Linked DNA regions of Homo sapiens. The protein of the gene in region 2 purifies or fractionates together with the protein of the main gene of each other region. This does not show direct contact. Each region holds a gene or a part of one and is shown on either strand. Other genes may lie near its edges. The genes, in order: TRAPPC10, HUNK and TRAPPC6B.

Region 1 (3,656 bases), about 12 Mb from region 2:
AGGATTGGGTAACGACGGCCGTGACTCTCGCCTGAGTACTGGAAGGCCCGTCCTGGATGACACATCGCTTCCTCTCGTTTCAGTTGTCGACAACAGTAGCAACTGGGCAGTGTGTGGGAAAAGCTGCGGTGTCATCTCCATGCCAGTGGCTGCTCGGGCCACTCACAGGGTCCACATGGAAGTGATGCCGCTCTTCGCCGGGTATCTCCCCCTGCCCGACGTCAGGCTGTTCAAGTACCTCCCCCATCATTCTGCACACTCCTCCCAACTGGACGCTGGTAAGGACTTTGGAAGAAAAAGTTTACCTTCAGTATTTGAGCAGGTGAGCACTTTGTGCGAGAGGTGATAAACTTATGACTGAGCAGGTTGGAGAACTAGCGGCGTGTTTTCAGTGCCGGTAGAAACTGGTACTAGAAGCCTCATCCGCTGTTAGAATCTTAGGCACCTGCTCTGAAAGCCAAGCCTCTGTGCACAGAGTGCTCTGTAAAGGGGCAGCCTCGGGTGGCATTCTGCACGTTCAGCCTGGCTCCGTGTGGCTTTGCCCGTCCCCAGGTGAGTGTCGGCGCAGCTTGGGTCTAACTTCCTGTGTGTTTTGCAGACAGCTGGATAGAAAACGACAGCCTGTCAGTAGACAAGCACGGGGACGACCAGCCGGACAGCAGCAGCCTCAAGAGCAGGGGCAGCGTGCATTCGGCCTGCAGCAGCGAGCACAAAGGCCTACCCATGCCCCGGCTGCAGGCACTGCCGGCCGGCCAGGTCTTCAACTCCAGCTCGGGCACACAAGTCCTGGTCATCCCCAGCCAAGATGACCACGTCCTGGAAGTCAGTGTAACATGACAACGCCAGGGTGAACACACGCCACTTCCCAGCTAGGAGTGCACTTTATGGGACTGTGACTGGACTCTTCCGTTCTGGCTCCAGCCAGACCTTCAGTGGTCCTGCCTGGCCGTGGGGACATCAGAGAGTGTCATCACGCAGCTGGCCAGCTGAGTTCTGTTGTTGTTTTCATGCCGCCTGTGATCTCAGATTCCTGCTTTTCTCACCCCGTCCCCATGCTGGTGTCCGACGCCGCTTACTCAGAGCCCTGGCCTCCCTCCCCCTACCTCACACGCTGCTCATGAAAGTTTCCACCCACGCTGTCTCCACGGAACAGCCTCCGTCTGCTGGCTCTTCGTGGAAGGCCATTTGTCTTTCAGGTAGACACTCAGCAGCCCTCACGGTCTTAGTGACGTGTGTGCCTTTCTGGTCACACAGCTGCCCAGTTTCCTGATCGGGGTGGATTTGTGTCCCCTAAGGGGTAAAACAGCCGTTTACCGCAGATCCTCTCATTGTGCTTTTCTAGAATAACACCCTTCTAGGGGAGGCGGGTGGGGGAGGGAGGGATCATAACCCCTTCTGTGCCTTGGGATGCCGGAGCTGGGGGACCTGGAGGCCCATCAGCCGGAGCCACGTGAAAGGTACTGAAGAAAGCTGAGACCCGGCTGTGAGGAGCGCCTCAGCGGTGAGGTGGTTTAGGGATAAATGTTTCTGGAACCCTGTGGTCCCCCATAATGTTGATAGAATATCATATGCACTGGGAGTTAAATATATTTAATTTAATGATCATTATATATGTGGGGGTTAATATGTTGTTTTTCTGTCCCTTTAAAGTCTTTACATGTAATTGTAGCTGTATAATCGTTATTTTTCTTTTGCATCTTAAGTCTTAGAAATTAAGATATTCCATCGTGAGGATGAGAGAGGTCCTCAGTGTGTTTTTGGTCTGGTTGTAGGGAAGGACTCAAGTCCTGGAATGTCCTCCACTGGTCTACTGAGTTGCAGTCACACTGTTCCAATGGATTATTTGCTTTCGGTTGTAAATTTAATTGTACATATGGTTGATTTATTATTTTTAAAAATACAGACTAACTGATGTAATGTTTATGTATAAGTTGCACCAAAAATCAAGGACAAAAATAAGTGTGTTTGTTTTTACAGGTGTGAAAGTCACAGCTTGTAAATAAGTGTTGTATGTATTAAACCTTTTCCAGTTCTCCAAAGCGATGTATTTTTGTACACTTGAAATAGAGTACTCTTAATTTACTGGGCAAATGTGCTTGGAATTGAACTTGACAAGATTAGCTCAAGCAGATAGAGTCGGGTCCAGCAGTGGGTGGCCCTCGTGTGAATCCCCGTGGATGTGCAAGTTGTGGAGAGAAGGAGCACCGGGTTCCTGCCCAGCACTGTGCTTGCGGGAGGCGGTGGGGCATGGGAGGAAGGAGGCACAGACCGGGGAAATATGACAGCCGTCATTTCCAGTATTCTCTGTGTTGTCTTTTAGCTCATTCAATAAATAAAGGTGGTGTGATTTTTTTTTCCTCCTGTCTTTTTCATTTGTAGAAACTGGAGACGTGTAAAGAAGATAAATAATTGTGTAATTAAACTTTCCAGAAATTTATCTTCCTCATGTGCAGTTTAACAAACTTGGTCAAACTAGTTAGCAAATTAGAACTTCAGAATCTAATGATAGTTTAGGGTTTCTAAAATAAGGTTTTTTATTGTAAAAATTGACGATTGCCCTGCATTTCTACCAAGTCCTGTGAATAAAGAGATGGGAGATTTGATTCCGTCAGAAGAGACTGTAATCCGTGTCGTCAGCCTGGGAGCCTTCCCCAGTGTAATGTAGCTTTCTCTCTTACCTTCTGGAAGAGGGAATGTTTCATTTATTACTGTTTGATTTTCTTGTATCTGGTTCTACTCCCAGGATGAAATTATCCAACTACATATATATTTAGAGGAAGAAAGTGAAGGGGAAATTTAAAATGTTTACGGCGCTTAATTGCCTGGAAATGAAATGAAATCAAATTTATCAGTTTTTTTCCCCCTAATTACCCAAAAGATCTTTTGCAAACTATGTTACATGAATGCTTCTGCCTCTTTAAGACAAAGAAGAATGTCACCCAAAATTGTCATTTTTTTCTTAATGTTCATCATAAAAGTCCTAAAAGAGTAACTGTAATTGGATGTTTATTGTTTTTATCTAAAGTAAGGTGTATGTGTTTGAGACAAGCTGGTTTTGTTGATAAAGAGATGTTAAATAATTGTGAAGCCAGATATGCAATGTGTATCTGAAAAGCAAGGAATTTGCAGCCGTTTTACAAATATCTGTGGAACATGTAAATACTGTCAAATGGAAAATAAAATAAGTTATAATTTTTGTGAATTTCATGGGATGTCCTATGATTGGAAAAATTATAACTCTTCTGATTCTAATGTGGAAATTGTTGTATTTAATCTGAAAATGACTTTACCTACAACAGTTCCATTGTCAGCACAGCCTAGGAAGGTCAGATCCTGTATTAATTACTCTTAGTGGAGATGCCAGATATCCCATACAGAATTAGCAGAGAAAATACACACAGGCTTCTATTCAAATTTTCTTTAGTGCTTAAAATTAAGTTTTAAAATGAAATCAGACACTGCAGGTTTGTATATAAAATGAAAAGCTATACTACTTTTTACAAAAGGGCAAACTGGGCTGATGTAAATGTTTTACTTTCAACTGTGTTCTTTAAAATAAATCCTACCTGGTTTTTAAATTTTATTTTTCATGAAAATGCTCCTTTCTCTACATTTATTCATCCTATATACATCAGGCTGTAAGACCCCCCCCAGTC
Region 2 (2,701 bases):
AAATACACTTTTCCCTCACTACGACTGCTTCTTTATTTGCTGATAAATCTTAAAACAACTAAGTACGTTGCAAATAATAGTACAGGTACCATCTTTTATGTGAAGTTCTTTTTCTTTTTTTGAGACAGGGTCTTGCTCTGTCACCCAGGCTGGAGTGCAGTGGCACAATCACAGTTCACTGCAGCCTCAACCTCTCCAGATTCAAGTGATCCTCCCATCTCAGCCTCCCAAGTAGCTGGGACTACAGTTGTGCACCACAATGCCTAGCTAATTTTTTTTGTATTTTGTAGAAATGGGGTTTCGCCATGTTGCTCAGGCTGATCTCAAACTCCTGGGCTCCAACGATCTGCCCACCTTGGCCTCCCAAAGTGCTGAGATTACAGGCGTGAGCCACTGTGCCTGGCCTTATGTAAAGCTCTTGACCTAGCATCTGACTGGAAACAAGCGGGAATTGCATTGGGGGGCATTTTCTGGGCCAGTTTCCCTGCCTTATTTTACCTGCAATAGGTGTGCCTACAAAAGTCTTTCTGACATACACACTGCAGGTGGCAGTTCAAGAAGAATCAACCTTTTTCATTTGGGGATATTAGGATCTTCCTTGGAGACTCTGAAAATGGCACACAAAGAATGGCAGTTATGAACGTGACTTCTAGATTTTGTCCTTGTAGGAGGCCTTGGTCATGGATAGGGGAAGAGGGATGATGGGATGGAATGGGAGGGTGGGATCTAGATGACCTCTTGAAATTGTCCCAGTTACTGCTTCCTTCATAACTGTTCACAAAACGTTTTTCATATATACCACCTTGTTTCCCCTGGGAAGTGAGGGGACGAAGCCTTAGAGGGTGACATAGCTAGAAAGTGGAGAAGCTCACTGTTCACTGTGCAAAGCCCCAGTAGTCGGATTCCGGGGAAAAGAACAAGTATCTAGTTTTGATGACAATGTTTTCTTGTAAGAATCCCAACACTTTAGAATAGAAAAGGACCTAAGATTCTCTGGCTCAGCCCCAGCCTTTCTGAAGAAGGGAAAACTAGGGACCCAGATGGTTTAAGGACACCCCAGAGTCCCCAGATGAGCTGGCATTTGAGCTGGTCTGGAGCAGAGTTTCTCCCTCAAAGAACACAGAGAAATCAGAGAGTGGCTGCCATGGTCAGAGGGGGATGTCAACAACAGATCAAGCCGTCATCACAACAGGTATTTCTGAAGTTCCTGCAGGGACTAGGTCTTGCATTTTTAAGTCCTTTTCAAAACTGTGCAGCTTCCTGAACCTTATGCTGTTTGTCCCATCCACTCTTGAAGCTGGGGAAAGACAGCTTTCTTTGGGAACTCTGTCTTTCTCAGTTGACTTCCCAAGTAAGCAGCAAACCCCTGGATAGCCTTGTTATCTACTTTAGGTATTAAGAGGCTATTGGGTTTTACTAGATTAAATCAATAAAACATTTCCTATAGAGCCATATCATACACTGAAGCAAATTCAGAAAGAATGCAAAACTGCTATCTTTTGGGGGAGTCTGGAAGCCTGTTGGTTAGTGTATTTATTTTCTTTGTGGGGTCTTCTGTGAGCTACAGGCACAGTAAGAATAATTCAGAGCGGTACTGGGAGTTGGTTCAATTTCATGTCATCACTTTTCAATGAAGGGAGTGCATTTCCTGAGTAGTAAATGAGTATATTATTTGTGGCAGCTTTTCTGTTAAGGGAGCTTTCCAGACATCTGGTTGCAAAGACAAATAGGATATATATTTGTACTTCTTCTCTGTGGACATGTTTTTGTGACACACAGTTATCTCTAGGAGTTGACGTCTGTGGGCACTAAGGGACTGAGGTTGGGGGAGAAAGCTGAGGAGGCTTTGGAAGAGAAGGTGAGGAGCATTTCAGGATTTGCAGTCCCCCTCCACATGTATCCACATCTGAGCTGGTGGTGTTCCAATAATGAGGCATTTGGGGCAACCAATTTTGGAAGGATAGAATAGCTTTATGTGGAGCAAACTTGAGGATCAATTGGAGTTGAGTGGTTTAAAACTTAAAGATGGCACAGGAAGCTGTATCATTTACAGGTGAAAAAAATAAATGGGTCTGACTTCAGGGCCTCAGCTCTTTGTATTTCCTACTTGGAAGATGGGCTATTAGCAATTTTGAAAGCAAAGGCTTTGGTTTACATTTAAACTCTATAATTTTTTTTAAAAATGTGTTCTTTCTAGTCTTGTTACCATAGCCAGCTGGAAAGGGCAAATTGCAAGCCTATATTGGGAACAAGTCTTCTTGCCGAAAGTAGGGCAGTGAAGTTCTTGGCAGATCTGAGATGAGAATGCCTTCCCCTGACTCCTTCATCAGTGTTCAGTGCTCACCTCCTCTGGCAACCAGTATGCTAGAAGATTAGGCTTTGCTATGATCACAAATTAATTCCAAATCTCTGTGACTTGCCCAATAAAGGTTTATTTCTTAAAATATTTTTATGAGGCTGGGCTGACCACAAAACGGCTGTCTTCCATATGGTGACTCAGGGATCCAGGCTACATCCAACTTGTGGCTGTGTCCCCTCAAAATGAAACGTCTTTGGCTGCTCCAGCACAGGAAGGCACGGCTGGAGAGTTTTCCACCAGCCCTTAAACATTCTATGAGGGGACTCATCACTTCTCCCACAGCCCATTGACTGGAACTGGTCACACTGCCTTGTCTGTGAGCAAGAGGCTGGGAAATACAGG
Region 3 (3,656 bases), on a different chromosome or scaffold from region 2:
CAAAATGGCACATGCTACCATGCCCAGCTATTTTATTTTTACTTTTAGTACAGATGTGGTCTTGCTATGTTGCCCAGGCTGGTCTTGAGCCATTGAGCTCAAGTGATCCTCCTGCTTTGGCCTCCTAAAGTGCTGGGATTACAGGCATGAGCCACCGTGTCTTGAGGGGTTTGTTTCTATTAAAAGACTTGGTGTCAGGGAGGAGCACAAAGCTTTAACCCATTGAACCTCTGACAGTTAAGATGGTGTTGGGTTAGGTTACATCTGGTTACTATCCTGGGAAAATCACTTCTATAGAGATGGCCTTCCAAGTGGTTTTAAAATGTATCTTTCTGTCTGGGCGCGGTGGCTCACGCCTGTAATCCCTGCACTTTGGGAGGCCAAGGCAGGTGGATTGCTTGAGGTCAGGAGTTTGAGACCAGCATGGCCAACATTTTGTATTTTTGTATTTTCTCTACTAAAAATACAAAAATTAACCAGGCATGGTGGTGGGTGCTTATAATTCCAGCTACTTAGGAACCTGAGGCAGGAGAATCACTTGAACCCTGTAGATGGAGGTTGCAGTGAGCCGAGATGGCCCCACTGTACTGCAGCCTGGATGACAGAGCGAGACTCCATCTCAAAATAAATTAAAAAAATGTATCCTTCTATTGAAGTTTTTAGGTTAATCATGTATATGTTGACTAAATTATGAATTAACTTGTTTATCAAAAAAAAAGTAAAAAGTAAAGTAAGTAAAAGTAAAGTAAAATAAATAAAATCAACCTTATAATTCACTTTTTCTTAAACTGTTTCAGGGAAAAAAGTATAAATGTTTACATTAATATTTTTAACCAATCTTGTAAAACAATTTCTGAATACTAACATCCTAGCATTCTAAAAGTATTTAAAACTATTGTTTTTTAAAATAGGAAAACGGACGATGTATTACTAAGCTGGAAAACATGGGGTTTCGAGTGGGACAAGGATTGATAGAAAGGTGAGCAGGTTGGATTTGAAAATTTTCTTGCAGGTAGGTTATAAACAAAGGTGATCTATTTCAAAAGATTGCATAAAACTTGGGATATTTTAATTTTAATTCCTGAATGTTATTCTCTTTACTTCAAAAATTAAAATTTCTTTTTAGATCCAATGCCATTTAACTCATTTATTCAAATTTTATTTTAATGTTTAAAGAAAATATATATTTTATATATTTTAGACTTTCTTCCTGAAGCTATTTTAGACTTTATTCCTGAAGCTATTGAAGCAACTATCTAAAATCTTACTGCATTTTCAACTTAAGATCTGCTAGGTTCTTTAACCTGCATAGAATTTTTAAGTACATAGGTTTGAAATAACTATAGTCTATGTTTATGCGTGTAATTATCTTTGAACTTATAAATCAGTTCTTTTTAGTATTTCTTTCTCACTACCTGAATAGTTAAACTCGGAGTATATTTTATATAACAATGTCATGATAATGCTCAGCTCTTTGTTCTTTTGTGGTTTTTTGATGTGCTAGAATGCATTGCACCTGAAATTTTGGCTATAATGTTAGACTAATTTGAGGCCTCATAATTTATATAACATAATGTGAATCCATTGAGATAGGATCATGTTACCTGGTGCTTATGACTTTATTAGTGTTAATAAATGTTCAGCCAGGTGTGGTGGCTCATGCCTGTAATCCCAGCACTTTGTGAGGCCAAGGTGGGAGAATCTCTTGAGCTCAGGAGTTTGAGACCAGCCAGGGTAACAAAGTGGAACCCTGTCTCTACAAAGATATACAGATTAGCTGAGCATGGTGACATGTGCCTGTGGTCTCAGCTGCTAGGGAGGCTGAGGTGGGAGGATAGCTTGAGCCTGGGAGGGAGGTAGACGTTGCAATGAGCCGAGATTATGCTATTGCACTCTAACCTGGGCGACAGAGCCAGAATCTGTCTCAAAAAAAAAATTAAAATTAAAAAACCCAATAAATGTTCAGTGCTGTTCTGGCATTTGGAAATTAGTTAATAATTAGTCCCTCTTGCTTTTTTTGGAGGAGAAATACTGTATTACTTCTAGTTGATCTTTTTAGGTTTACAAAAGATACTGCAAGGTTCAAGGATGAGTTAGATATCATGAAGTTCATTTGTAAAGATTTTTGGACTACGGTATTCAAGAAACAAATCGACAATCTAAGGACAAATCATCAGGTAATTAAATTAATTAAGGCCTATATTTTAAAGTCCTTTAACTTGATATAAATATCGTATTTTAGTGACTTATTTAAAACCTAAAATAATTTCTGGTTAACTTTGGAATATGTTTATGTTATTAATGAGTTATTAGTTTTTTTCTTCTAATAGTGTGAACTGAGTAAAGACAAAGGGACAGTTATCAGTAATGATAGCTGTTCCTTTCACCCAATTATATGCTATGTTAAGTTTTTTAAAGTAGCATAAGTCAGGATGAGAATAGCTTTTACTATTTGGTTCCTTAGTTACTGTTAATTAGTGGTAATAATATGCAGAACCACAAATATATCACCTTTATGTCTTTAGAGTCATTTCTTTTTTTTGAAGAAGAAGAATTTGGATTATTTTAATTATTTTTATATACAGAAAACTCAACAGTGTATGTTTAACCCAGTTTGGTGTCAAGTTCTTTAGCCTTTGCCTTTTCCTGCTTGACAATTCAAGCCACAGACTTGAGACCCAGGACATTGCCTCCCCAGTGACAGTGGATTTCGTTTTGTCTGTCGTAATTGGTTCTGATAGCTTCCACCAGCTGAACCTAAGCTCCATTGTCCTCTGAGTTAATCTGTGTAAAGGCGACAGTGGTGCGGGTCTTCTTGTGGATTAGACATCCCAGTCTTGCCTTCCCCTTGATAATGCGGTAAGGGACCCCCATTTTATGACACAAGGCAGGCAGGAAGACAGCCACCTCGATGGGATCCACATAGTGTGCAGTCACCACCAGCTGAGCCTTCTTGTTCTCCTCCAAGGTGGAGATGGTGTTAACTCCTGCTCGGAGGACAAGTGGTCTCTTAGTGGGGACATCCCCTTTGCCTGCAGCTTTCTTTTCAGCCCGGGCCAATAGCCTCTGCTTATTTTCTTGCTTTGTCTTTGGTCTGTACTTGTGGGCCAGCTTAAGCAGCTAAGTAGCTATTTGGCGGTGCAGGGCCTGGGTGAACTGGTTAATTGTAGGAGGCACTTTCAGCTGCTTACAGAGGATGGCTTTGTGCCACTGCAACCTGATATAGCGGGGCCATTTCACAAAGTGAGTGAGGTCCATATTGGGTGGATGTCCTGTCCAATGCCAGAATTCTTAGGCCTTTTCTCAAACAGGGGATTCACCACTTTCTTTCTTTCTTTTTTTTTTTTTTTTTTTTGAGATGGAGTCTTGCTGTGTTGCCCAGGCTAGAGTGCAATGGTGCGATCTCGGCTCACCACAACCTCCGCCTCCTGGGTTCAAGCCATTCTGCCTCAGGCTCCCAGGTAGCTGGGACTACAGGCATGTGCCACCACTCCGGCTAATTTTTGTATTTTTAGTAGAGGTGGGGTTTCACCATGCTGGCCAGGCTGGTCTCGAACTCCTGACCTCAAGTGATCCGCTTGTCTCGGCCTCCCAATGTGCTGGGAGTACAGACGTGAGCCACCACGCCCAACCAGGATTCACCACTTTCTTGGCCT

Evidence for each region.
Region 1: the proteins of HUNK (region 2) and TRAPPC10 purify together in Homo sapiens (affinity purification with mass spectrometry; one large-scale study listed by BioGRID and IntAct). This does not show direct contact.
Region 3: the proteins of HUNK (region 2) and TRAPPC6B purify together in Homo sapiens (affinity purification with mass spectrometry; one large-scale study listed by BioGRID and IntAct). This does not show direct contact.

What each region holds. Positions count from the first base shown.
Region 1 is NC_000021.9:44,102,695-44,106,350, forward strand, and holds part of TRAPPC10 (trafficking protein particle complex subunit 10), read left to right. Parts: intron 1-83; coding exon 84-278; intron 279-598; coding exon 599-837; 3' UTR 838-3,656. UniProt on the Homo sapiens protein: Specific subunit of the TRAPP (transport protein particle) II complex, a highly conserved vesicle tethering complex that functions in late Golgi trafficking as a membrane tether.
Region 2 is NC_000021.9:32,001,984-32,004,684, forward strand, and holds the end of HUNK (hormonally up-regulated neu tumor-associated kinase), read left to right. Parts: 3' UTR 1-2,081; downstream 2,082-2,701.
Region 3 is NC_000014.9:39,156,806-39,160,461, reverse strand, and holds part of TRAPPC6B (trafficking protein particle complex subunit 6B), read left to right. Parts: intron 1-911; coding exon 912-979; intron 980-2,059; coding exon 2,060-2,177; intron 2,178-2,545; exon of another isoform or gene 2,546-3,340; intron 3,341-3,656. UniProt on the Homo sapiens protein: Component of a transport protein particle (TRAPP) complex that may function in specific stages of inter-organelle traffic.